Homo sapiens: one gene and its partners. The protein of the gene in region 5 interacts with the protein of the main gene of each other region in a pairwise test. Each region holds a gene or a part of one and is shown on either strand. Other genes may lie near its edges.

The links.
Region 1: the proteins of TSGA10 (region 5) and CDK18 interact in binary tests that used the Homo sapiens proteins (3 or more experiments, as listed by UniProt).
Region 2: the proteins of TSGA10 (region 5) and CEP57L1 interact in binary tests that used the Homo sapiens proteins (3 or more experiments, as listed by UniProt).
Region 3: the proteins of TSGA10 (region 5) and JRK interact in binary tests that used the Homo sapiens proteins (3 or more experiments, as listed by UniProt).
Region 4: the proteins of TSGA10 (region 5) and BIRC2 interact in binary tests that used the Homo sapiens proteins (3 or more experiments, as listed by UniProt).
Region 6: the proteins of TSGA10 (region 5) and CBY2 interact in binary tests that used the Homo sapiens proteins (3 or more experiments, as listed by UniProt).
Region 7: the proteins of TSGA10 (region 5) and PKN1 interact in binary tests that used the Homo sapiens proteins (3 or more experiments, as listed by UniProt).

What each region holds. Positions count from the first base shown.
Region 1 is NC_000001.11:205,511,169-205,514,668, reverse strand, and holds part of CDK18 (cyclin-dependent kinase 18), read right to left. Parts: intron 2,353-3,500; exon of another isoform or gene 2,209-2,352; intron 1-2,208. UniProt on the Homo sapiens protein: May play a role in signal transduction cascades in terminally differentiated cells.
Region 2 is NC_000006.12:109,098,507-109,102,006, reverse strand, and holds part of CEP57L1 (centrosomal protein CEP57L1), read right to left. Parts: intron 1,816-3,500; exon of another isoform or gene 1,721-1,815; intron 1-1,720. UniProt on the Homo sapiens protein: Centrosomal protein which may be required for microtubule attachment to centrosomes.
Region 3 is NC_000008.11:142,663,468-142,666,967, forward strand, and holds part of JRK (jerky protein homolog), read right to left. Parts: intron 3,054-3,500; 5' UTR 2,592-3,053; coding exon 885-2,591; 3' UTR 1-884. UniProt on the Homo sapiens protein: May bind DNA.
Region 4 is NC_000011.10:102,357,214-102,360,713, reverse strand, and holds part of BIRC2 (baculoviral IAP repeat-containing protein 2), read right to left. Parts: intron 1-3,500. UniProt on the Homo sapiens protein: Multi-functional protein which regulates not only caspases and apoptosis, but also modulates inflammatory signaling and immunity, mitogenic kinase signaling, and cell proliferation, as well as cell invasion and metastasis.
Region 5 is NC_000002.12:99,148,443-99,151,942, forward strand, and holds part of TSGA10 (testis-specific gene 10 protein), read right to left. Parts: intron 3,228-3,500; exon of another isoform or gene 2,393-3,227; coding exon of another isoform or gene 2,117-2,392; exon of another isoform or gene 2,041-2,116; intron 1-2,040. Other genes in the region: uncharacterized protein C2orf15, read left to right, coding at 2,117-2,392. UniProt on the Homo sapiens protein: Plays a role in spermatogenesis. When overexpressed, prevents nuclear localization of HIF1A.
Region 6 is NC_000013.11:45,712,320-45,715,059, reverse strand, and holds the end of CBY2 (protein chibby homolog 2), read right to left. Parts: intron 1,879-2,740; coding exon 688-1,878; 3' UTR 501-687; downstream 1-500.
Region 7 is NC_000019.10:14,467,806-14,471,305, reverse strand, and holds part of PKN1 (serine/threonine-protein kinase N1), read right to left. Parts: intron 3,431-3,500; coding exon 3,339-3,430; intron 1,966-3,338; coding exon 1,789-1,965; intron 1,555-1,788; coding exon 1,492-1,554; intron 1,395-1,491; coding exon 1,318-1,394; intron 1,144-1,317; coding exon 1,001-1,143; intron 732-1,000; coding exon 624-731; intron 536-623; coding exon 455-535; intron 1-454. UniProt on the Homo sapiens protein: PKC-related serine/threonine-protein kinase involved in various processes such as regulation of the intermediate filaments of the actin cytoskeleton, cell migration, tumor cell invasion and transcription regulation.

The DNA of each region.
Region 1 (3,500 bases), on a different chromosome or scaffold from region 5:
TTGTTTAAACCTCTTTCCTCTACAGATATGGAAACATTAGATCCCTCAAGGACAAAGACTGTATCTTAGTCACCTTTAAGATCCAGGACACACTGCCACGTGCAATAAATGTTGGTGCCTTTCCTTCCACTTTCAGGCAGGCCAGGGACCTGTTTCTAGGTGTATCTTCTCATTAGGCCATCTCCTGTCCTAGTTAGACTTGAGCATGATTGGGGTGGGCCTGGCCCTGTCCTCTTTCTGGGCACACTAGAGTAAGCCTAGACTGTCCAGTCACCCAGCCCCAGACTCCCCGGGGCATGCTTCCTCCTCAGTTTTCTTGGGTTTCAGAGGGAACAGGAATACAGGGATTGGTACCCAAGCAGATGGATGGGGGACTAGGGAGAAACCAACAACGTGCTACTCATCCTGCCATGGGGACCTCTGCATCTCCTCTAGCCCGAAACTCCACTGTCCCCAGCCAGGTGATGGTCCCTCTTCTGTGCTCCCACAGCTTTCTGACATCCCAAGGCAGGGCACTTGGCTCCCTGTCCTGTAACTGTTTACTTGTCATTTCCCTAGTTTGCCTGTGGGCTTTTTAAGGGCAAGCACTGTGGCGTGACTCGTCATTGCACCCCCAGAGCCTGACCCAAAGCCTGAGACAAAGTGAGCCCTCAAATGACCAGCAAATGAAATATGAAAGCTGGACTCGAGGCCTCAGCTGAAACCTGACCCTCTTCCTCTAGCCAGCATGTGGCCCAACAGCAGCGGGAGATGGGCTGAGGCAGTGGGGGCAGTGTCCTGCCCAGCAATTACTCCCCCAGTGAGGTCTGTGGAGGTTTTTGGGCTGGAGGCACCATCCTACAGTGAGGGGTGGACTGGAATGAGAAGAACCCGAATGAGAAGTTCCTCCTGCAACATGCATTGAGCTAGGGCCTCCAGGGCTGTGGGGAAGGGGTTCGGAGGGGCTTGTGGCCCTCTTCCTGGCTCTATCACTCAGGGAAGATTCTCAGAGCCTTGTAGGGCAGGTGCACTACTCAGGCTCAGATGTTGGCCTTGACCCCTACAGATGACCCTTTCTGACCCCACACGACCTCCTATCTAGCCCCTCTGTGTGGCTCCACTTCAGTCCTACTGATGTCCACCCTGCTGCTCTCTGGCTTCCTGAGGCTTAAGGAATAGAGGTGCATATTGCATCTTCTGGTATTTTCCTTTTGACCTTTTTTGGGGGCCCAGCTAAAGCTGGTCTGCACTCTCTGAGGAGGCTCAGGATGTCCAAGTGATAAGATGGGACAAGGAGCCCTTCTGTCAGTTCTGGTCCTGGGCGTACAGAACATCCCAGATCAGAGACCAGAGCAAGGGGCAAGGGCCAGGATAGGCCTGGCCTCCATCTCCCCCATCCTCCTGCCTCCAGAGAAAGCCCGCCTTACTCTCCCAGCCAGAGGAGCCCTCTCTGCTCCTTTTATCAGCCCTCTTTAAAGACACTCAAGGAAGGTCCTTCCCCAACTGTCCTGTGTTTTTGAGATCCCAAAGTCTGGAACCTTTCCTTAGGTCTTCCTTAAATACCAGAGGAAACAGCTTGTTTCCTCTCCACTTGCTCTGGCACAGAAACTGGTGCCTACCATCTTTTACACAATAAATTGGAGAAGAAAAGAAGAGTGTTGAGTTCACCCACCCAATAGCCCTCTCTCAGCCAGATATCCCGTGTCCAGCTCTCCTGCTGGCCTGTCATGGGACCTTCAGTCCTGTCTCTGGGTTTCTCTCCATGCCCAACTTTGGCAACAGAACTGCAGGGGCCTTTGAGCCTGGCATCCCTGGGGACCTCTCAGTCTCAGGAGGGGGAGGGAATGGGGAGGATTTCCCAGCATCTCTAAACCATATTCCTATTTATACTCCACCCCCACCAGCTGGCCCACGCCGCCCAGTGCCCACATTCTGACAAGAACCCCTGGCTGGTCGTCTCCAACTTTCCTCATTCCAATCTGAGAGACTAGCTTAAAAAAAGCAGCTTCATGTCACCGCCAAGAACTCCACTGGGCTCCTCTGACCAGCTCCCAGCTTCTGGTCACTTGGATTGCCCCGCCTCTCCCTCCTCACACTCCGCATGGCCTCCCTCCCACCAGGCTGGGCCCAGGAGGCCTCCTTGGCCTGCATGGCCTCCCCCAGGCCTCTGAACATCTCATAGTTGTTCAACTGTTCTCTAAATGTCTTTTATCAGTGTCACTCACTCACCAGGGTTCAGCCTCCTCAAAGTCACTCACTCATTTCACAAGCACCTGCTCAGCGCCAGGCACTGTCCTGGGCCCTGGGCCTCGGATTCCACTCCCTTTGGCTGCCTGGGTCTCCTCCTGCTTCTTCCTTCCTCCCGGGTCTGGTGGACTTACTTCCTCTACCTGTCCCTTGAATGTCAACACTCCCACAATTCTCTCTTTGGCCCTTTGCTCTTCCTCTCTGGGCATGCTTCCTGGGTGACCTCATCCCCTCCCGAAGTGGAAACCACCACCCGCGTGCTGATGACTCCAGATCTGTAGCCCTGGCCCCACCAAGCCCCTCAGCTCCAGATGCTTGGGTGCAGCTGCCTTCTGGGCACCCTGCCTGTGTGTCCCCCAAGGGTTCAGTTAGAGGTATGTGTGTGTGTGTTTTCTTTTGGAGACGGAGTCACCCAGGCTGGAGTGCAGTGGCGTGATCTTGGCTCAGTGCAACTTCTGTCTCCCGGGTTCAAGCAATTCTCCTGCCTCAGCCTCCCAAGTAGCTGGGACTACAAGCGCACGACACCACACCCAGCTAATTTTTTGTATTTTAGTAGAGATGGGGTTTCACCATGTTACCCAGGCTAGTCTCAAACTCCTGAACTCAGGTAATCCGCCCGCCTCGGCCTCCCAAAGTGCTAGGATTATAGGTGTGAGCCACCGCACCTGGCCAAGATGTGTTTTTAAGTGAAGAGGACAGATGTGTACAGTTTGTAAAAGCTGTACGTATGCAGGATATACACATGTGTCACAGGCATGCACATATAAACACAGCACACTGTTAGATAACCCAGAAGGTGGTAAGTCAAAACACCAGCAGTAGTTATTCCTGGGTGATAGAATTATGGGTGATTTTAATGTCTTCTTTTTGCTTATCTGCATCTTCTAATATTTCCATAATGAACATTTATTGCTTACATAAGAAGAAAATAGCAACACTTCTTTTTAAATGAAAAGAAAGTACTTTTAGATTGAGATCCTGGAGCAGTTTAGTGCAAGGCCTGGAGAGAACTATGATTATCTTGAGCAGGGGTCAGCAAACCTTTTCTGTAAGAGGCCAGACAGCCACTATTTTAGGCTTTGCGGGCCATCGTCTCTGTCGCCACTCTGCCACTCTGCCTTTGCAGCACAAAAGCACCCACAGGCAAGATGTAAATGAATGAGTTTGGCCTCACACCAGTAAAACTTTACTATGAACACTAACATTTGAATTTTATAAAATGTTTAAGGGTCACAAAACTTTATTTTCTTCTTTTGACTTTTTACCGACTGCTT
Region 2 (3,500 bases), on a different chromosome or scaffold from region 5:
AATCCTGGCAAAGGTGGGGCGCAACAGGAACTCTCATTCATTGGTGGGAAATAGAAAATGGTACTGCTGCTTTGAAAAACAGCTGTATGGCTGGGCGCGGTGGCTCACGCCTATAATCCCAGCACTTTGGGAGGCCGAGGCGGGCGGATCACGAGATCAGGAGATCGAGACCATCTTGGCTAACACGGTGAAACCCCGTCTCTACTAAAAATACAAAACATTAGCCGGGCGCGGTGGCGGGCGCCTGTAATCCCAGCTACTCAGGAGGCTGAGGCAGGAGAATGGCGTGAACCCGGCAGCGGAGTTTGCAGTGAGCCGAGATGGCGCCACTGCAGTCCAGCCTGTGCGAAAGAGTGAGACTCCGTCTCAAAAAAAAAAAAAAAGAAAAAAGAAAAAGAAAAACAGCTGTGAGTTTCTTACAAAGCTAAACATAGGGTTACCTGAGATCCAGCAATCATATTCCTAGATGAGTTAAAAATTTTTTGCCCAGAAAAAGCCTGCACATAAATTTTTAGGACACTTTATTCATAATTGATAAAAACTGGAAGCAACTAAGATGTCCTTCAAAAGGTGAATAAGCAAACTGTGATATATCCATACAATGGATTATTTTTCAGTGATAAAAACAAATGAGCTCCCAAGCCATACATATAAAGACATAAAATAACTATAAATGCACATTGCTAAGTAAAGGAGCCAGTCTAAAAGGCAACATACTGCATGATTCCATGGTCCATGACCAAAGTTAGCAAAACCTCTCAATATCTGTTCCCTAATTAATTACTCTTCTAAAATGTAACTGTGAAAATTTACTGATCTAAAGAAGTTCTTCTAAATTCCATAACATCTATTGATATGTTGCAGCAAAAAAGGCAGACTGTTTTGTTTTGTTTTTTTCCTAAGACAGAGTCATACTCTGTCGCCCAGACTGGAGTGCAGTGGTGCGATCTTGGCTCACTGCAACCTCTGCCTCCCAGGCTCAGGCGATTCTCCTGCCTCAGCCTCCTGAGTAGTTGGGACTAGAGGCGTGTGCCATGATGCCTGGCTAATTTTTGTACTTTTAGTAGAGATGGACTTTCACCATGTTGGCCAGGATGGTCTCGAACTTCTGACCTCAGGTGATCCACCTGCCTCAGCCTCCCAAAGTGCTGGGATTACAGGTGTGAGCCACCATGCCCAGCCAAAAAGCAGACATTATGAATATAAGAACTCTGAATTAAACAATGTGAAACTGTATCACATTAAATAAAATTTTATGTGACCAGTAATTACATTTCCTAGGCTACAGATTCTGTAAACTTTCTTTCTTTCTTCTTTTTTTTTTTTTTTTTTTTGAGACAATCTCACTCTGTCACTCAGGCTAGAGTGCAATGGAACGATCTCAGCTCACTGCAACCTCTGCCTCCTGGGTTCAAGCGATTCTCCTGCCTCAGCCTCCCAAGTAGCTGGAATTACAGGCGCCCACCACCACGCCTGGCTAATTTTTGTATTTTCAGTAGAGACGGGGTTTCACCATCTTGGCCGAGCTGGTCTCAAACTCCTGACCTCAAGTGATCGGCCCACCTCAGCCTCCCAAAGTGCTAGGATTATAGGCATAAGCCACTGTGCCCGGCTTTGTTTTTTTTAGGACGAACTTTCTAAAATGTTTTTATTATAATGTACCCTCGTCCATCCATTAATTACTTTGTGTTTTTGTAAATGATAGATAAATATGCCATACCTTTGAAAGTTCTGTGGCATTATATCATTCTTCCATTCATTCATTCCTTTATTCTTGCGTCACACATTTATTAAGTTTGTACTAGGTACCAGGCACTGTACTCAGAGGTAGAGATAAGATGATCAACAAAAACAAGCACAGTAGTTCCTCTTGTGTGCTTAAGCTCTACTGAAATAAACACACTTTAATCAAATCATGGCACAACTGCAAAACTAATTGGTAACATAAGAGCAACTCAAGGTTTACGGTGCAATAGGTCTATTTACAAGAAGAGTATTTAATTAGATCAGGGACACCTCTGAGAAAATGATTATTTGAGCAAAGACCTGCAAGAAGAGGAGTTAAAGACAGGCTAGAACAATCTGGACAAAGAACACAGTAAAAGAGTGCTGCATCCATACTCGCTGTCTCCCATACTCTACTAAATAAAAGTACCCATTGTTGGGCACGGTGGCTCACGCCTGTAATCCCAGCACTTTGGGAGGCCGAGGCGGGTGGATCACGAGGTCAGGAGATCGAGACCATCCTGCCCAACATGGTGAAACCCTGTCTCTACTAAAAATACAAAAATTAGCCGGGCATGGTGGCGGGTGTCTGTAGTCCCAGCTACTCAGGAGGCTGAGGCAGGAGAATCACTTGAACCTGGGAGGCGGAGCTTGCAATAAGCCGAGATAGCGCCACTGCACTCCAGCCTGGGCAACAAGAGCAAAAACTCCTTCTCAAAAATAAATAAATAAATAAAAATAAATAAATAAATAAAAGTACCCATCTGGCTTTTGTACCCTTTACTCCACCAAAAGTTTCTTATCAAGATCCCAATGACCTCCATGTTGCTAAATGTACTGGTCAATTATGAATCCTCATCTCATTTGACCTACAGCAACATTTAACATAACTTATTTTTCCTTCCTCCTTAATTACTTTCTTCATTTTGCTTCTAGAACACCTACTGAACAGTGGGTTTTTCTCTGCTCACTGGCTGCTCCTTCAGTCACCTTTGCAGAGAACTCCAAATCCACCCAAACTCCATAGAATATCACTTTTGGTGATATCAACAACTCCTATCAAAACACTACTATAAAATCCAAAATTATATCTATTGCCAGATCTTTCTCCTCACTTCTGGACTCATTTATTCAACTGCCTCCTCCACCTCCACATCTCAATGTGAATTTCTTAGAGGCATCTCAAACTTAACGTGGCCAAGCTAAAATACCAACCTTTCCTCTCTCTCCCATTCACAAATCTGCAGATTTTCCCATAATAGTAAATGGCACTTCCTCCATTCTAGTTACTCAGGTTAGAAACTTTGAAGCCATTTTTGACTCTTACTCTCACACAATCTGTCAGCAAAGTCTGTTGGCTATACTATCAAAATGTATCCAGATTCTGTCACCTGGATTATTACTTTAGTTTCCTAACCAGTCTCTCTGCTTCCACCCTTGCTTCCCTATGGTCTATGCTCAACACAATTTAAAAGAAATATTCACTTCAGGCCAGTTGCAGTGGGTTATGCCTCTAATCTCAGCACTTTGGGAGGCTGAGGCAGGAGGATCACTTGAGGCAATCACTTGAGGAGTTCAAGACCAGCCTGGGCAACACAGTGAGATCCTGTCTCTACAAAAAGACAAAAATTATCTCAGTTATGTAATTTCAGTTAAAAAAAAAAAGGAAAAAATACAAAATTAGCTGGGCTTGTTGGCACGTGCCTGTAGTCCCAACTACCTGGGAGACTGAGGTGGGAGGATTACTTGAGCCCAGGAGTTCAAGGATGCAGTGA
Region 3 (3,500 bases), on a different chromosome or scaffold from region 5:
AGACTAATCTCTGAATGTCTGATCAAGACGTATTCATGTAAAGGCCATAAGTATGAAATTCTGGGCAACATGGTACATTGGACTCTGAGCCAAAATGCCAAAATACCACACAGGGTCCGTGTCCTCTATCCGGGTGATGAGCAGGGCCTGGTCAGCCACTCCTACTTTCTTCCCAGAAAGGAACTCTACCAAGTCAACTCTCCGTGGGGCCCCCCAACATCTTGGGGCCAGAGCCCATGGGACAGGATCTGCGGGTAACAGAGGATGGTTCCAGAGTCATTCTGCTGAATGAGGCCACAACTGAAGTGAGATGTGCGGCCTGTTCAGCCGCTAGCAGGCCAAGAACTGAGTCCCAGCTCTCGGGCCATCGGACCTCAGGCAACCGTGCTCGGGGTCCACCCAACACGGGGATGGCCGCCAGCCCAGCAGATAGAGCCTTCTGAGACGAAGCCTGTCCAGGGGCGGTGGGCATGGCCTCCTGTCGGCCTGGAGGGCAACTTCTCTCCACGTGGACAGACTGACATCTCCACCCTCTGATACTGCAATGATCAGCCAGCGAACACGAGACCAGATCGGCTCAGCCTGGCCCCCATTCCAGCCAGGGTGCGGCTCTGGCTTGTTCTAGGCTAGGGTGGACCCTTCCAAAACATTTCCTCACTTTCGGATGACACGGCAAGTGATAAAATAAAACCTGTATTGACAGGAACCTCGGGCACAGACCGTCCTGGGCACCCGAGCCACACCCGTGGGCGACCCACTCCTGGAAGGGCTCTTGAGTGTCTGCACATGCCCTCCTGCCTCAGGTGGGGTCGGGGCACAGGACCATGCCACTCCAGGGTGTGGGGAGAAACAGGGCCAGTGGCCAGGGCAGGGCAGAGAAGCCATCAGTTGTCACCTGCTGTGGATGAGCAGGGCAAGGGAGACTGAGCTGTGGCCCCACAGCCACCAGGGCCCTCCTGGAGGGCTTCAACCTTGACCACAGCCCCGAGGGCACCACGCCGCCTCCTCACCTGCTGCTGGCTCCGGAACACGGCACGCAGCGCCCGCAGCTGCCCCACTTCCTGCGCACTGAAGCATGGCTGCCGCTCCGCAAAGCGCAGGACTGCGTCAAAGGCCACGGCCGCCTGCTCCCAGGCCACCTCCTCGCCCTCACCAGGATCTCCTCTGCCGTCCTGGTCAGCTTTCGGAGTCTTTTCTGAACTCCACACAACCTCTGCTGGCGACGTGGCAGCAGGGGGCCGTCCCCCTTCTGCCTCCCTTCCCGCTACCCCCCAGCTGGCGGCCTGGCGCTGGCGAAGCTGGCCCGGGCAGGAGGAGCCTTCCTTCACAAGCTCCAGGATGTGTGCAAAGGACTTGTTGTGGGGCTTCACTGGGAAGCACTCTGCCTCCAACTCCTCCTCAGAGGAGGAGCCTTCGGCAAACGCAACCGACGGCCACAGCTTCCTCCAGGCCCGCCTGAAGACGTGGCTAGGGACTGCGTTCCAGGCACAGGCCACGCTGAATATGGCATCGTTCATGTTGTAGCGGGCGTGGGGGCCCTGCAGGGGGACCGGAGGGTTAATGAAGTTCCTCATGAAATCTCTCCGAATGCCCTGCTCCATGGGCTGCACCAATGAGGCCACGCTGGCAGGCAGGAAGATGGTGAAAACGTTACTGGACACCAGCTCGGCCTCCTGCGGGTGAGCCCGGGAGCTGTCCAGCAAGAGAACGGCTTTGCTGTCTTCCGGCAAACCTATGGTTCTGAAGTGCTCTCTCACCGAGGGCACAAAGATATGATGGAACCAATCGGAAAAAATCTCCTTGTCCACCCAGGCGTTCCCCTGGGCCTTATAGGCGACGGGCAGGTGCTGGATGCCTTTGAAAGCCCTGGGACCGCTGCACTTCCCGATGGCCAAGGGCTTGAGCCTGTGGGAGCCCGTGGCGTTGGCACACATCAGCACGGTCAGCCGGTCCTTGCCCTGCTTGGGGCCAGGCACAGCCCCGCCTTCCGGAGTGGGATTTGGCAGGCACCGCCAGAAAAGGCCGGTCTCATCAGCGTTGTAAACCTGCTCGGCGGACAGCCCGTGCTCAGCAGCCAAGCTCCTGAAAAACGCACAGAACTGCTCCGCGGCCTGGTGGTCGGCTGACTGCTTTTCACTGGATGCATCTAGCTTTTTAATGCCGTGTCTGGCCTTAAAGCGCCAAAGCCACCCTCCGGAGAACACGCAGGGCTCAGTGAGCTGCATCTGCTCGTAGAAGTCCTTGGCCTTCTCGATGAGCATGGGGCCTGACACGGGGACGCCCTCGGAGCGCTTCCCCAGGAACCACTCGTACAGGACGCGGTCCAGGTGCTCCAGCTTGGGCGTGTGCAGCGTGCGCCGCTGCTCCAGCGCCTTGTTGGAGTCGGAGCTGGCGAAGAACCGGAGCAGCTGCGCCTTGTGGGCCCTGATGTCGTAGAGGGTGGACATGCCCACATTGTACTCCTGCATCAGTGCCTTCCGGCTCTCGCCCTTCTCCAGGCGCGTGCAGATGTCAATCTTCTCCTTCAGTGTCAGCACCACCCTCTTCCGCTTCTCCCCTCTGCTCTTCCCGGCAGCCGGCTTGGAGGCCATGGGGAGGGGTGGCTGGTCCTAGCACTTGCAGGACACACGCCTGGCCTGGGCTGCTGCCACTACTTCCCTCTCCTCCTGCTCCCCTTCTGGGGCTCCGTCTCTCCCTCTCCACTCTGCCTGCCTGCTCTGCTGATCCTGAGCACAGGCCCCAGTCCCTCTCGGGTTTCTCACTCCACACGCTGCACCTCCTGCCTCAGGTATCCCTGGTCTTCCAGGCTCCACACACCTAGGCCTTGGCTCCTGGCAGTGCAGTCAGCTGCCAATTCTCTCTGTGGAGGAGGTGACCCTGTCAGACTCCCCTCTGCTGCTCCACACGGCTGGAACTCCGGCCTTCTCTGTGGATACTATGGCAGCGGCTCCCCTCAAACTGACCAGGTTTGGGGTGGTAGAGGTTTTACCGCATAAGCAGCAGGTGCCTCTCCAGGGTCCACAATGGTATCTCCAGGCACAGCACTTCAGGGGCTGGAAAGCAGAGGGAACAGAGAGGAAAGTGATGGGGCGCGCCCAGGACACACATGGCGTCCTCACGACTCTCCTCACCGGGACACTCCAGCTGAAACTCAAGGGCTGTTGAGAGGACCCATGCAAGTGCTGGCATGCACTGTGGGGAGAGGGTGGCCCCGGGAGCAGCCCAGCCTGCCCAGCCCCTGCACGTGCTGCTCAGGTGGACTCTGCCCAACTCCCACCAAGCAAACTGAAGCCATTCGCTAGGGCTGGAAACGAGACGTGGCTCTCATAGGAGCAGCCCGGCCTTTCCTGGGGAAGCGCTCAGGCAGAAGCCATCAGAGGAAGCCAGGAAGTCCGATGCTGGGCGGACCCAAGAACAAACCTCCCACCCGCCCAGCCTAAGCTTCTTGCTGTAACTGCTCGCTGGGCTACCTGAGCTTCTCAAATCCCTTATTCCTCCCT
Region 4 (3,500 bases), on a different chromosome or scaffold from region 5:
CAAGAAACAGAAAGAAAAAAAAAAAAAGAAACGTGACATTAGCAAAGAAACTCAGTAATTTTCCAGTAATCACCCACAAAGAAATGGAGATCTATGAACTAACAGATAAAGAATTCAAAATAATTGTTTCAAGCAAACTCAGTGAGCTACAAAAGAACACAGATAATGAAATAAAAAAATATATACAAACAAATGAGAAATTCAACACAGAGATAGGAATAATAAAAAGAAACAAATTCGGGAGCTGAAGAACATAACAACAAAAAATGCAATAGAGAGCATCAATAGCAGACCTGATCAAGCAGAAGAACCTGTGAACTCAAAGGCAGATCATGTGAAATTATCTAGTCAGAGGAGAAAAAAAGAAAAAAAAAAGAATAGTGGAGAAAGCCTACCTGAATTATAGGACACCATCAAGCAAAACAATATTTGCATTTTAAGAATTCAAGGCCAGGCACGATGGCTCACACCTGTAATCCAGCACTTTGGGAGGTTGAGGCGGGTGGATCACATGAAGTCAGGGGTTCAAGACCAGCCTGGCCAACATGGCAAAACCCCGTCTCTACTAAAAATACAAAAATTAGCTGGGCATGGTGGTGCACACCTGTAGTCCCAGCTACGTGGGAGGCTGAGGCAGGAGAATCACTTGAACCTGGGAGGTGGAGGTTGCAGTGAGCTGAGATCATGCCACTGCACTCCAGCCTGGGTGACAGAACAAGACACCATCAAAAAAAAAAACCCAAGAAAATGAAAAACAAACCCGAGAATTCAAGAAGGAAAAGAGAGAAAGGACAGAAAGCTGATTTAAAAAAAAAATGCTGAAAACTTCATAAATCTAGGGAAAGATATCCAGGTACAGGAAGTTCATAGGACCCCATAAAGATTCAACCCAAAGAAGACTTCACTGACACACATTATAATGAACTGGCAAAAATAGAAGATGAAAGAGAATTTTAAAACTGTAACAGAAAAGAAACTCATCTTCTACAAGAGAAACCCTATAAGACCACAAGTGGATTTCTCTGCAAAAACCTTGTAGGCCAGGAGAGAGTTGGATGATATATTCAAAGTGCTGAAAGACAAAACTACCAGACAAGAATATGTATCCCAGCAAAGCTGTCCTTCAGAAATGAAAGAGATATAAACAGTCCCAGACAAACAAAAGCTGAGGGAGTTTATCACCACTGGACGCGCCTTACAAGAAACGCTGAAGAGTTCTCCAAGCTGAAATGAAAGGACACTAATTAGCAACATGGAAACATATGAAAGTATGAAACTCACTGTTAAGATAAATATATAATCAAATTAATAATATACTAAATTTGTAATGGTCATGTGTAAATTACTTAATTCTAAAATACAGGTTTTTAAAAAAAAGTATTAAAAATAACTATAGCTTCAATAATTTTTTCATGAATACACAATATAAAATGCAAATAATGACATCAAAAACATAAAATATGTGCAGGAGGGTCTGAGTAACAGTACAGTTTTTTAATGCAATTGAAATTAAGTTGTTAGTGCTTGAAACAGACTACTATAACTATAAGATGTTCTATGTAAACCTCATGATAGCCACAAAGTAGAAACCAATAGTAGATGCACAAAAGATATAAAGGAATCAAAGCATACCACCACAGAAAATCATCTAAACACAAGGGAAGACAGCAAGAGAGGAAGAAACAAATAATCTGCCAAACAATCAGAAAACAATTACAAAATGACAGAAGTCTTTACCCATCAATAGTTACCTTGAATGTAAATGGGCCAAATTCTCCTATCAAAAGATAAAGAGCAGCTGAATGGATAAAGAAAACAAGATTCAGCTACAGGTTGTCTACAAGAGACTCAATTCACCTTTAAGCACATGCATGGGTATAGGAAAAAAGATATTCCATGCAAATGGAAACCAAAAGAGAGCAGAGGAAGCTAAAGTTTTATCAGATAGGGCAGACTTTACATCAAAAACTGTAAAAAGAGTCAGAGAAAGTAATTATATAATGAGAAAGGGGCCAATTCCACAAGAGGATACAGTATCTGTAAATATATATATGTACCCAACATCAGACCACCTAAATAAACAGAGAAAATATTAACAGATCTGAAGACATTAATAGATAGTAACACAATAATACTAGAAGACTTCAAAAATCCTACTTTCAATAATGGATGGGTCATCCAGACAGAAAATCAGTAAGGAAATATTGGACTTCAACTATACACTGGATCTAATGGATCTAACATACAGGTTGAATATTCCTTATCTGAAATGCTTGGGACTAGAAGTGTTTTGAATTTTACATTTTTTAGATTTGGGAATACCTGCCTTATGTTTACCAGCTGAGCATCCCTAATCCAAAAATGCAAAACCAAAAATGTTCCAAAGAGCATTTCCTTTCAGCATCATGTTGGTACTCAAAAAGTTTTAAATTTTGGAACATTTTGGATTTTGGATTTTTGGATTGGGGATACTCAACCTTTATACAGAACATTCCATCAAACAGCAGATAATACACATTCTTCTTAAGCACACAAGAAAAATTATCCAGCGTAGATCATGCAGCAGGTCACAAAACAAGACTCAACAAACTGAGGAAGACTGAAATCCTATCAAGTATCTTTTCAGACCACAATGGTATGTAACCAGAAATCAATAACAGAATGAAAGTTGGAAAGCTGACAACTATGTGGAAATTGAACAAAATACTCCTGAATAATCAATGGGTCAAAGAAGAAATCAAAAAGAAAATTTTAAAAAATCACAAGAAATATTAAAATTGAAATGCGACATAGCAAAATGTATAGAACAAATGCAGTTCTAAAAGGAAAGTTTATAGCAATAATCGCCTATATTTAAAAAAAATCTTAAATAAACACCGTAATTTTACATCTAAAGGAACTAGAAAAAGTTAGCAGAAGGAAATAACAAAATCTCATGAAATAGAGACTACAAAAACAATAGAAAAGACCACTAAAACTAAGAGCTGGATTTTGAAAAGATAAGTAAAATCAACAAAGCTTTAGTTTGACTAGTAAAAAGGAAGACGAAAATAAATAAAATCAAAACCAAGAGATGTTACCATTGATAACACAGAAACGCAAATGACCATAAGAGACTACCATGAACAATTATTCACCAAAAAACTGTATAACCTAGAAGAAATGGATGCATTCCTAGAAACTTGTAATTTATCAAGACTAAAATAAAGAAGAAATAGAAGATCTGAAAAGACTTATAACTAGTAAGGAGATTGAATCAGTAGTCATAACTCTTCTGACAAAGAAAAAGCCCAGGAACAGATGACCTCATAGCACAGTTCTATCAAGAAGAAGAAAGAAGAAGAAAGGAAGAGGAGGAGAAGAAGGAAGAGGAGGAGGAGGAGGAAAGAAGGAGGAAGAAGAAAGAAAAGGGAGGAGGAGGAAGAAGGAAGAAGAGGGAGGGAAGAGGGAGTAAGGAGGGAGGAGGGGGGAATACTTCCAAACTCATTTTATGAAGCCAA
Region 5 (3,500 bases):
CTATTTACCTAATTGTTATATTAATATTTGAGTAAGTACTATATTTAGGCTACTACAGTAGACCCAGGACTCTGTTTTGTTATAAACACTGATATTCAGTCACAAATATGGATAAACAGGGTTTCAAGATGATTCTTTAGAAATGTTCAGTCAGTAATTACAGCTTGATGAGTATGAAATTGTAAACTATCAAAGATACCACAGTAGGTAAATATTAAAGACATAATACATTCTAAAAAGTGGGTGAGGCTGAGCGCAGTGGCTCATGCTTGTAATCCTAGCACTTTGGGAGCTGAGGTGGGTGGATCACCTGAGGTCAGGGGTTCAAGACCAGCCTGGTCAACATGGGGAAACCCCGTCTCTACTAAAAATACAAACGTTAGAGTTTCTGTTTGGGATGATTAAAAGTTCTGGAGATGGATGACCATGATGTTTGCACAAAAATGTAAATGTACTCAATGTCATTGAATTGTACACTTAAAAGTGTTTAAAATGGTAAATGTTATATATATTTTACCACAATAAATAAAATATAGACTGGAAAAAAAATAAATAAAAATAAAAATAAAAATACAAACATTAGCTGGGCCTGGTGGCGGGCACCTGTAATCCCAGCTACTCAGGAGGCTGAGGCAGGAAAATCACTTTAACCTGCCGGGTGGAGGTCCAGTGAGCCGAGATCGCACCACTTCACTCCAGCCTGGGTGAAAGGGTGAAACTCCATCTCAAAAAAAAAAAAAAAATGGGTGAGGGATTTCGATCGAAGCTGTGGAATCTGCTCCAGATCTCAGGTTGCTACTATAGCATCTTGGGTAGATCACTCTTCTCCAGTAAGCCCTGGGCTTTCTCAAACCTTTTCTGTACAGGAAGCCTGTCCCTTCTGCCATCCTGGTCAACTCTGCCTACCAAATTCCTGCCCATCTTTGAAAGCGAAACCCTAACCTAGGCTCCCCTCCTTTGGGAAACTTCCCAAGGCCTCCCTCCATGCTACATGATCATCTTTTTTTTTTTTTTTTTTAAGACGGAGTCTCGCTCTGTCGCCCAGGCTGGAGTGCAGTGGCGCGATCTCGGCTCACTGCAACCTCAGCCTCCCGGGTTCACACCATTCTTCTGCCTCAGCCTCCCGAGTAGCTGGGACTACAGGTGCCCGCCACCACGCCCGGCTAATTCTTGGTATTTTTAATACAGATGGGGTTTCACCATATTAGCCAGGATGGTCTCGATCTCCTGACCTCGTGATCCACCCACCTCAGCCTCCCAAAGTGCTGGGATTACAGGTGTGAGCCACTGCGCTCGGCCGATCATCTCTTTTTACAGACTAGACATCCTTAATCACAAGTATCTTTTTTTTTTTTTTTTTTTTTTTTAAGACAGAGTCTCGCTCTTGTCGCCCAGGCTGGAGTGCAGTGGTGCAATATTGGCTCACTGCAACCTCCGTCTTCCAGGTTCAAGCTATTCTCTTGCCTCAGCCTCCTGAATAGCTGGGATTTCAGGTGCATGCCACCACACCCAGCTAATTTTTGTATTTTTAGCAGAGATGGGGTTTCACCATGTTGGCCAGGCTGGTCTCTCAATCCTAACCTTTGGTGATCCACCCGCCTCGGCCCCCAAAGTGCTGGGATTACAGGCGTGGGCCACCGCACCCAGCCAATCACAAGTATCTTTATAGGACATCTTTATTTTTTACAGAAAATAAAGTACTAGCAGAGTACTTGGCCTTCAGTCGTTATTTCTTTAGCCCATTAGTAATGAATAAAGAGGTTTCGCTAGCAAGAATGAAAGAAAGGACTAAGAGAAGCTCTACTATTTTCTGAAAGGTGATAAAACATACAATCAGATAAATTTCCTTTTAAAAAGACTTTCAAATAAATCTTTAGAACCTGCAAACCCTCCCACAAAGAAAATGTAAACACTGAAAGGTAGGAGGCAATTTTACTTTATATTTCTAGTATCACCACAGCTTTTCATTCAAACAAACATTGCCATGAAGTTAGGGAAATTCCTGCTGCATTCACTTGTTACTTTTTTTTTTTTTTTCAGTAATCAAGTTGAAGAAACACTTCCACTACTTAAAAAGGTACCTGCAAATTACTTTCACATTTGTTCAGCTATCCTAATGGGATTTTCACTTAGTAAATCTGCTACTCAGGTATCTGCTATACATATGGATTCAAAAGTGGATGATCACTTAATACGAGGGACTGAAAAAAGCAGGTTGGAACCAGCGACTCAGTTATTTCAAAACACCAAGAAAATAAGATTAGAAGACACAAATCAAGAAAACTTTACAAGGATTGAAGGGACTGGCACAGGATCTCTTTCTGGGAAAGCCTTGGGTTCAGTGGTATATGTCAAAGAAAGTGATGGACTAGAAATGACAGATGTGGAATGAAGCAATTTGTACGTATTACCAAAGAAACCAAAAACTGCCTTTGACTAAGGGGGGTGTTGAAAGAGAACTTAACCTTATTAGGAAACCCTGACAAAATGATGGAAGACTATTGCCTTATTTTGCACTATTTGTGAATCATCTTACACTGCATTTTTTTATGATGCTTATTCAAAAGGCAGTTGCTTTAGGGTGAAAAAGCCTTCCAAGATTCAAAGCAGATTTCTCTGGTATTATATTATATCCTTCTTAAAAACCAGAGTTTTTAAGTAACAGTATTTGAATGGCATCAAAACATTTTCATTTTAATGTATTTCTTTAACAAGTGGTTAAAAAAAGTGTCCAAGCAGCCGGGCGCAGTGGCTCACACCTGTAATCCCAGCACTTTGGGAGGCCAAGGCGGGTCAATCACCTGAGGTCAGGAGTTCGCAACCAGCCTGGCCAATATGGTGAGACCCCATCTCTACTAAAAATGCAAAAAGTTAGCCAGGCATGGTGGTGGGCACCTGTGATCCCAGCTACCTGGGAGGCTGAGGAAGGAGAATCGCTTGAACCCTGGAGGCGGAGGCTGCACTGAGCTGAGGTCATGCCATTGTACTCCAGCCTGGGCAACAAGAGCAAAACTCCGTCTCAAAAAAAAAAAAAAAAAAAAAAAAGTCCAAGCAATGTGACATCCGTATTTCACAATATTTCTGGTGTATCAGTTTTGTATGTTACATTTCCATTTTGGGATTCTGCTTTATGATACTTTACTTTCTTACATTTTGCATTTTTGTTCTGTAAAAGATCACTGCCAATAAACTGCAAAAGACCAATAAATTGCATATCTTCAGAAGGATTTCACATTTTAAATCGTGCCTTTAAAACTGCTTTTTCCCCCCACATAGAATCCATTTTAGAGTTAGAAAAGTGTTCTTTCCAAGTGTTAATAGTTTGTCTTGCAGATGGTACCATTTTATGTCACCAATATTTAATATGAGAAAAAACAACCTGTTTAAAAACCTTGTTTTGTATATCAGTTATGAAAATATCTGGTAGTTGGAAATCTCTTTAATATTCATTTTAAAAGAGGAAAGGGCATCTTTTCCGGGGGGAAGCTATATTTTATTAA
Region 6 (2,740 bases), on a different chromosome or scaffold from region 5:
TCCACACTTGGCGATTCCAACTATATGACATTCTGAAAAAAGCAAAACTATGAAGACTGTAAAAAAGATCAGTGGTGGCCAGAGGCTGGAGGGGGAGGGAGGGATGAACAGGCAGAGCACAGAGGATTTTTAGCGCAATGAAAATACTCTATATGGTACTACATATACTCTATAATACTCTATATGGTACTACAATGGTGGCTACATGTCACTATGCATTTGATCAAACCCACAGAATGTACAACACCAGCAGCAAACCCTAATACAAACTTACGGACTTTGGAATAATTATGTGTCAATGTAGGTTCAAAGACTGTCACTAGTGTACCTCTCTGGAGGGATGGTGATAATGCGGGAGATTATGCATTTGTGGGACGGGAGTCTATGGGAACTCCCTGTACTTTCTGCTCAGTTTAGCTGTGAACCCAAAACTGCTCTAAAATATTGTCTATCTTTTATTAAAAGAAAGAAAGAAAGAAAGAAAGAAAAAGGCAGCATGCTGGTGTCAACTGGCCCCAGCCTCCTCACACCTTTATTAAAACTCTGAGTTTAGGAAGGCTGCTAACGCTGCTTTTCAATAGGTACGAACTGGCTGGGGAAGGCGAGGACGACAAAGGAAGGCAGGGGATTCTCTTTTGCCCAGTGTTCGGTGTCCCAAACTCGGCGTCCCGGTGCAAGGCCGAGGCCTCAGACCCTGCTAGGCTTCTTGGGGTCCTGGCTCCTGGCCGGCATGAAGGCGTAGAGCTCCTCGATGAGCATTTCCATGCGCGCGGTGACCTCGGTCACGGTGTCAATGACCAGCTTCTGCTGCAGCTTCAGCTTGTTGTTCTCCCACAGGGCCTTGTTCTCCTCCTGGAAGCCCCTGTGCTCTGCCCGTAGCACCTGCAGGGTCCTGTTCTCCTCCTGCAGGAGCCGGTTCTCCTTGAGCAGGGCCTGCAGCGCCTGCCTCATCTCTCTCAGCAGCTGCAGGGGCTGGCAGCCGTCGGGCAGGCCCGGGCCCACCTTGGCCTCCTCCTCCCCGGAGGGCCCGGACATGTTGCTGACCATCTTCCGCAGGGCGCGCAGCTCCTTGGAGTCCTCCTGCCGGGCCGGAGGCCCTTTGGGCTCCTCGAAGCGGGAGGAGAGGCCGGAGCCCTGGTCCTGCAGCAGCCCGGGGCTGCAGGGCTCCTCGTGGGGTGAGGGGGCGGGCTTGCTTTCCTCGGCAGGGGCGGCCGTGTCCTCTGCCTGCGCCCAGTAGGCCTGTTTCTGCTCCAGCAGCTGCTGCAGCGCGCGATTCTCCTCCCGGAGGAGCTGCAGGGTGCTGTCCTCCTTGCCACGGGGCACCTGCAGGGCGACGTGGTCCTTCTTCACCACCTCCAGGGACGCGCTGTCTTTGTGCAGCAGTGGCGAGGGGGCCCGGCTCTCCTCTCGGCCCAGCGAGGCCTTGTGCTCCTCCCAGAAGACCTGTAGGATCTTGTTCTCCTTGCTGAGCATCCGGTTCTCCTCGCGCAGGGCCTTGTTCTCCTCCCGCAGAGACTTGTTCTCCTCCTGCAGCATGCACTCCTTGGCCAGCCTCTTGTGGTGCAGCTTGTGGTGGAAGGAGGCGGATGGGGAGAAGTAGGGAGACTGCAGGCGGCAGTTCTCATTTACCCAGCGCCCGTCCTGGAACACGAACATCTCGTCGCTGAGCTGCACCCGCGGCGGGTTGTAGTCCAGCTCCAGGTCGGCCTGGGACATGGGGCGCTCCATGGGGTCTAAAGGCACGGAGGAGAAGCGGTTCAGTGGATAGGAGTGCTGGCTCGCCATCCTGCGGCTCAGCCGGGGCAGGGCGGCCTGCTGCGCGCAGCGAGGGGTGCTGTACAAGTTGTGGAGCCTCGGGAAGGGTTCGGCTGTGCCCCTCTGCGGGAGAGAATGGGAAAGCCCAGCGTTAACGATGGGACTGACACACTTGGGGCTGGCTGACAAAGGGGCCAGGACATCCCCAAATAAGCCCCGTCTGATTGTCTGGCCTGGCCACAGTGGGCGCTTTTGCTTCTTGGGGTCCTCACAAGGAAATGTGGCCTATCCTTGTCATTCCAGTGAGTTCTGTTCTATGAAGTCAGTTCCAATACTGAATTAGCAAATATAGAACCATTGCTCCTACAGGAAATAGAGGGCTATGTTCCTGTGAGCCTGTGGTCACAGTTTTGTCAACCAAGCAATACATAACCTCATTTAGTGCGTATTGTTGATTCATTAACATCAAATTCACGTCAGCAGCACTGTCACGCATGCCCAAACAAAACTTCTCTAACACATGTGTTTTCTCCATGTGGCACAGCATAGCCTTCTTGTGATTGGGAATACTAGACAGCACTTGACTTGGAATGGTACAGAAGCCATTTTTAACAGCAAAATCACCAACAAAATGCACAAGAAGGCAAAACAAAAAAAGTGGCACTAGATAGACTGCGCAATGGACACTATTTTCTAGCCTGAGAGCTGAAACAAGAAGGCTCCTTGGCTGGGGACTCAACTTCACACAACTCAAATTTTCACCTCTCCGTGCATGTCTGAGAATTACCATAAAAGTGCTACAAGTATTGATTTGGTGGATACACATTTTAGCAAGTAGGCAAATTCACAAATATGGAATCCGTGAATAATAAGAAACAGTTATATATTATGGTGGTCAAAGGCATTCATTTTAGAGTCAACCAAATATTTTGAGTCTTTGCCTCACTACTTACCAATTAACAAGAATTTGAGCAAGTTATTTGAG
Region 7 (3,500 bases), on a different chromosome or scaffold from region 5:
AGGACCAGCCTGGCCAACATGGCGAAACCCCGTCTCTACTAAAAATACAAAAATTAGCCTGGTGTGGTGGAGTGGTGCACGCCTGTAATCCCAGGTACTCGGGAGGCTGAGGCAGGAGAACTGCATGAACCTGGGAGGCGGAGGTTGCAGTGAGCCGAGATTGAGCCACTGCACTCCAGCCTGGGCGACAGAGCGAGACCCTGGCTAAAAAAAAAAAAAAAAGGGAAAAGTGGAGATGTGGGATTAGGAGGGTCCTTGGGGGGAACAAAAGTGGAGGAGGGAAATGGGGGTGTCAAAGGAGGTGACGATGTTGCCCTGGAGGTGCAACGAGGCCCTTGAGGCGCAACGAGGCCCTTGAGGCAAAGCGGCTAGGCATGGGGGCCGTCTGCTGTGGGGTGATGAATCGGCCCTGGGGGAGGGCCGGGGTCACTGAGGTCCTTGTGGGGAATCTCACCCTGAAGAAGGGCTGTTTCTTCACATCTTCTGCATCTCTCTCGCTAGATCCCAGCCTCCGCTCTGGGTTCCTCCGAAGCAGCTTGGAGGAAGGAGCACTGTGTCAGGATCTGTCCCCTCCTGGGCCCCACTGCCCCTCCCCAGGCCCGCCCCACGTCGGGGGTCCTCACCCTTCTCATGATGCCGATGGCTTCGGCCGACAGGAAGCGGGGGTAGCGAACCTCGTCGTTGACGATGCTGTCGAAGACCTCCTCCTCATCATCCCCTGGGAATGGGGACTGGGGAGAGGGAGGCCCGGGGTGAACGAGGCCCCTCCTCTGGCTGCTCCAAACCCAGCCCGGCCTGAGCCCCACACTCTGCTGCAGCTCTTGGGTGCTGGCTTACTTGGGCAGGGAAATGCCCCATTTTATAGATGTGGAAACTGAGGCCAGGGAAGCAGAGCCAGCAGCCCTCAATCACACAACACATGGTGGAGGCAGACTTGGATCCCACCCTGGGCACGCGCAGGTTCCAATGAGATCCGAGACACACAGGGGCGGGGTCTCACCTCGCCAACCAGCATCTCGTAGAGCAGCACACCCAGTCCCCACCAGTCCACAGCTCGCGTGTACGACGTGTCCGTCAGCACCTCAGGGGCCAGGAACTCCGGGGTCCCACAGAATGTGCTGGTCCGGTCCCCATAGCCCATCCCTGGGGACAGCAAGGCCATGTGAGGTTATGGGGGCCAGAGGAGTCACTCAGCCCAATGTGGGGTTGTCCACACAGCCAGCCCTGTCCCAGGGTCAGGGTGGGGGGCACCCCGAATAGGGTTAGGGACCCCATTCCTTCCCCCTCCTTTGTCTAATCCAGAGGCCAGCCCCTCACCCTCCTTGCAGAGGCCAAAGTCTGCGATCTTGACGTAGCCCTCGGTGTCCAGGAGCAAATTGTCCAACTTCAGGTCCCTGTTGGGGGTTGGAGGGGTGGAAAGAGGGATGAGCGGGGGTCTGGGTCCTGTCCCCACAACGGGCAGTGTGCACATGCATGCACACACGCACACACCTGTAGACGATCTTGTGTTCGTGAAGAAACTGTAGGCCCAGCACCACGCAGGCGGAATAAAAGCTGCAGAGAGAGAGAGGCTGCTGAGAGGGGTGGGGCCACCCTGCAAGGAGGGAGGGTCACATAAGCCTGGCTTCCACATCCTCAAAAGCCCCCCAGTCTCCCCAAAGCTCTGGGAGGCTGAGGGAAGCAAGGCCTGAGGGTGGAGGGGTGAGAAGCAGGCTGCCAGCCTCTCGGGGGGACTAAGTGTCAGATGCTGTAGGGGAGGCAGGGGCCCGGGCTGGGGTCCAGGCTCACATGGCACGGGGCTCAGAGAACACGTCGCTGTGGATGTGCAGCATCAGGTCCCCACCGGCCGAGTACTCCATCACGAAGCACACGTGCTCCGGTGTCTGGAAACAGCCGAAGAGGTTCACCAGGAAGGGGTGTCCCGCACTGGTCACTGCCGCCAATATCCGCTTCTCACACATCAGGCTGGGGAGGGGTGGGGGATAGAAGTCAGAGACCATGGCCGCCACTTACTCCAGACTCCCAGATGGCAACCAAAGCCCATACAGAGGGAAGCAGAACTGAGAAACGTCATCTCAGCACCTGGATACAGCCATGCCTGAAGGTAGCACACTCCTGGACTTTTCAGATCCAGACCAATAAATTTCTTTACTTGTTTCAGTCTTTCTCAGTTGGGTTCCTGATTATCAAAAGGATGCTGGGAAGACCAGGCACAATCTCAGTGCCTGTACCGAATGTTTAGAGGGGTTAGGCACTGTGTAGAGAGCACCTGACAACCATGTGTGGAAGGCAATAGCATTCTGCTTCTCCACAACAAGAGGGGTTCTTTTTTTTTTTTTTTTTTTTTTTTGAGACAGAGTCAGGCTGGAGTGCAGTGGTGCGATCTTGGCTCACTGCAACCTCCGCCTCCTGGGTTCAAGCGATACTCCTGCCTCAGCCTCCCAAGTAGGTGGGACTACAGGCACCCGCCACCATGCCTGGCTGATTTTTGTATTTTTAGTAGAGACGGGGTTTCACCATGTTGGCCACACTGGTCTCGATGTCCTGACCTCAGATGATCTGCCCACCTCAGCCTCCCAAAGTGCTGGGATTACAGGCGTGAGCCACCATGCCCAGCCAAGAAGCTGAGGTTCTGAAGGGAGAAGTGACCTCCCCAGGATCTCCAAGCCCATGCTGCAGAATTGAGATTTGAACCCAGGAACCTGACCCTAAAGCAGAGGCAGTATGGTGGCACCACAAAGGGCACAGGCTTCAGAGCCTGAGTCTCTAGCTTTGAATCCTGGACCTGCTGCTTACTGGCTGTGTGACCTTGGGTAAATTGCTGAACCTCTCTGTGCCATCAGTATTTATCTTATAGGGCTACATGGAGGAACAAATGAATAACTTTCCTAAGAGCTATTATTATCTTGGTATTAGGCTAGTAGGTATTAGTGACTTTTTGTTTTGAGACAGGGTCTCACTGTGTTGCCCAGGCTGGAGTGCAGTGGCGCGATCTCAGCTCACTGCAACCTTGACCTACTGGGCTCAGGCGATCCTCCTATCTCAGCCTCATGAGTAGCTGGGGCTACAAGCATGTGCCACCACACCCAGCTAATTATTTTGTATTTTTTGTAAAGATGGGGGTGTCACCATGTTGCCCAGCCTGGTCTTGAAATTCTGAGCCCAAGTGATCCACCTGCCTCGGCCTCCCAGAGTGCTGGGATTACAGGTAAGAGCCACTGTGCCTGGCGTTAGTGACTACTATGAGTCACTCTCCCTGTAGCTCCAAGGAGAGAACTGCTCTGTCATTTCCCAAAAGAGAAGAAAGAGGTCCCCAGAGGACCACGGCAGGTCCCCACCTCTCCACCTCGTCTCGGGCCACAATGTCCCCTTTCTTCAGAGCCTTGATGGCGAACAGCTCCCCACTGGGCCGGAATTCGGAGAGGAGCACCTGGAACCACAGTGGGCAGGGGTGGTTTTAGCGGCCAGCCAGGGACCTGGGGGGTCTCCCAATTCCCTGC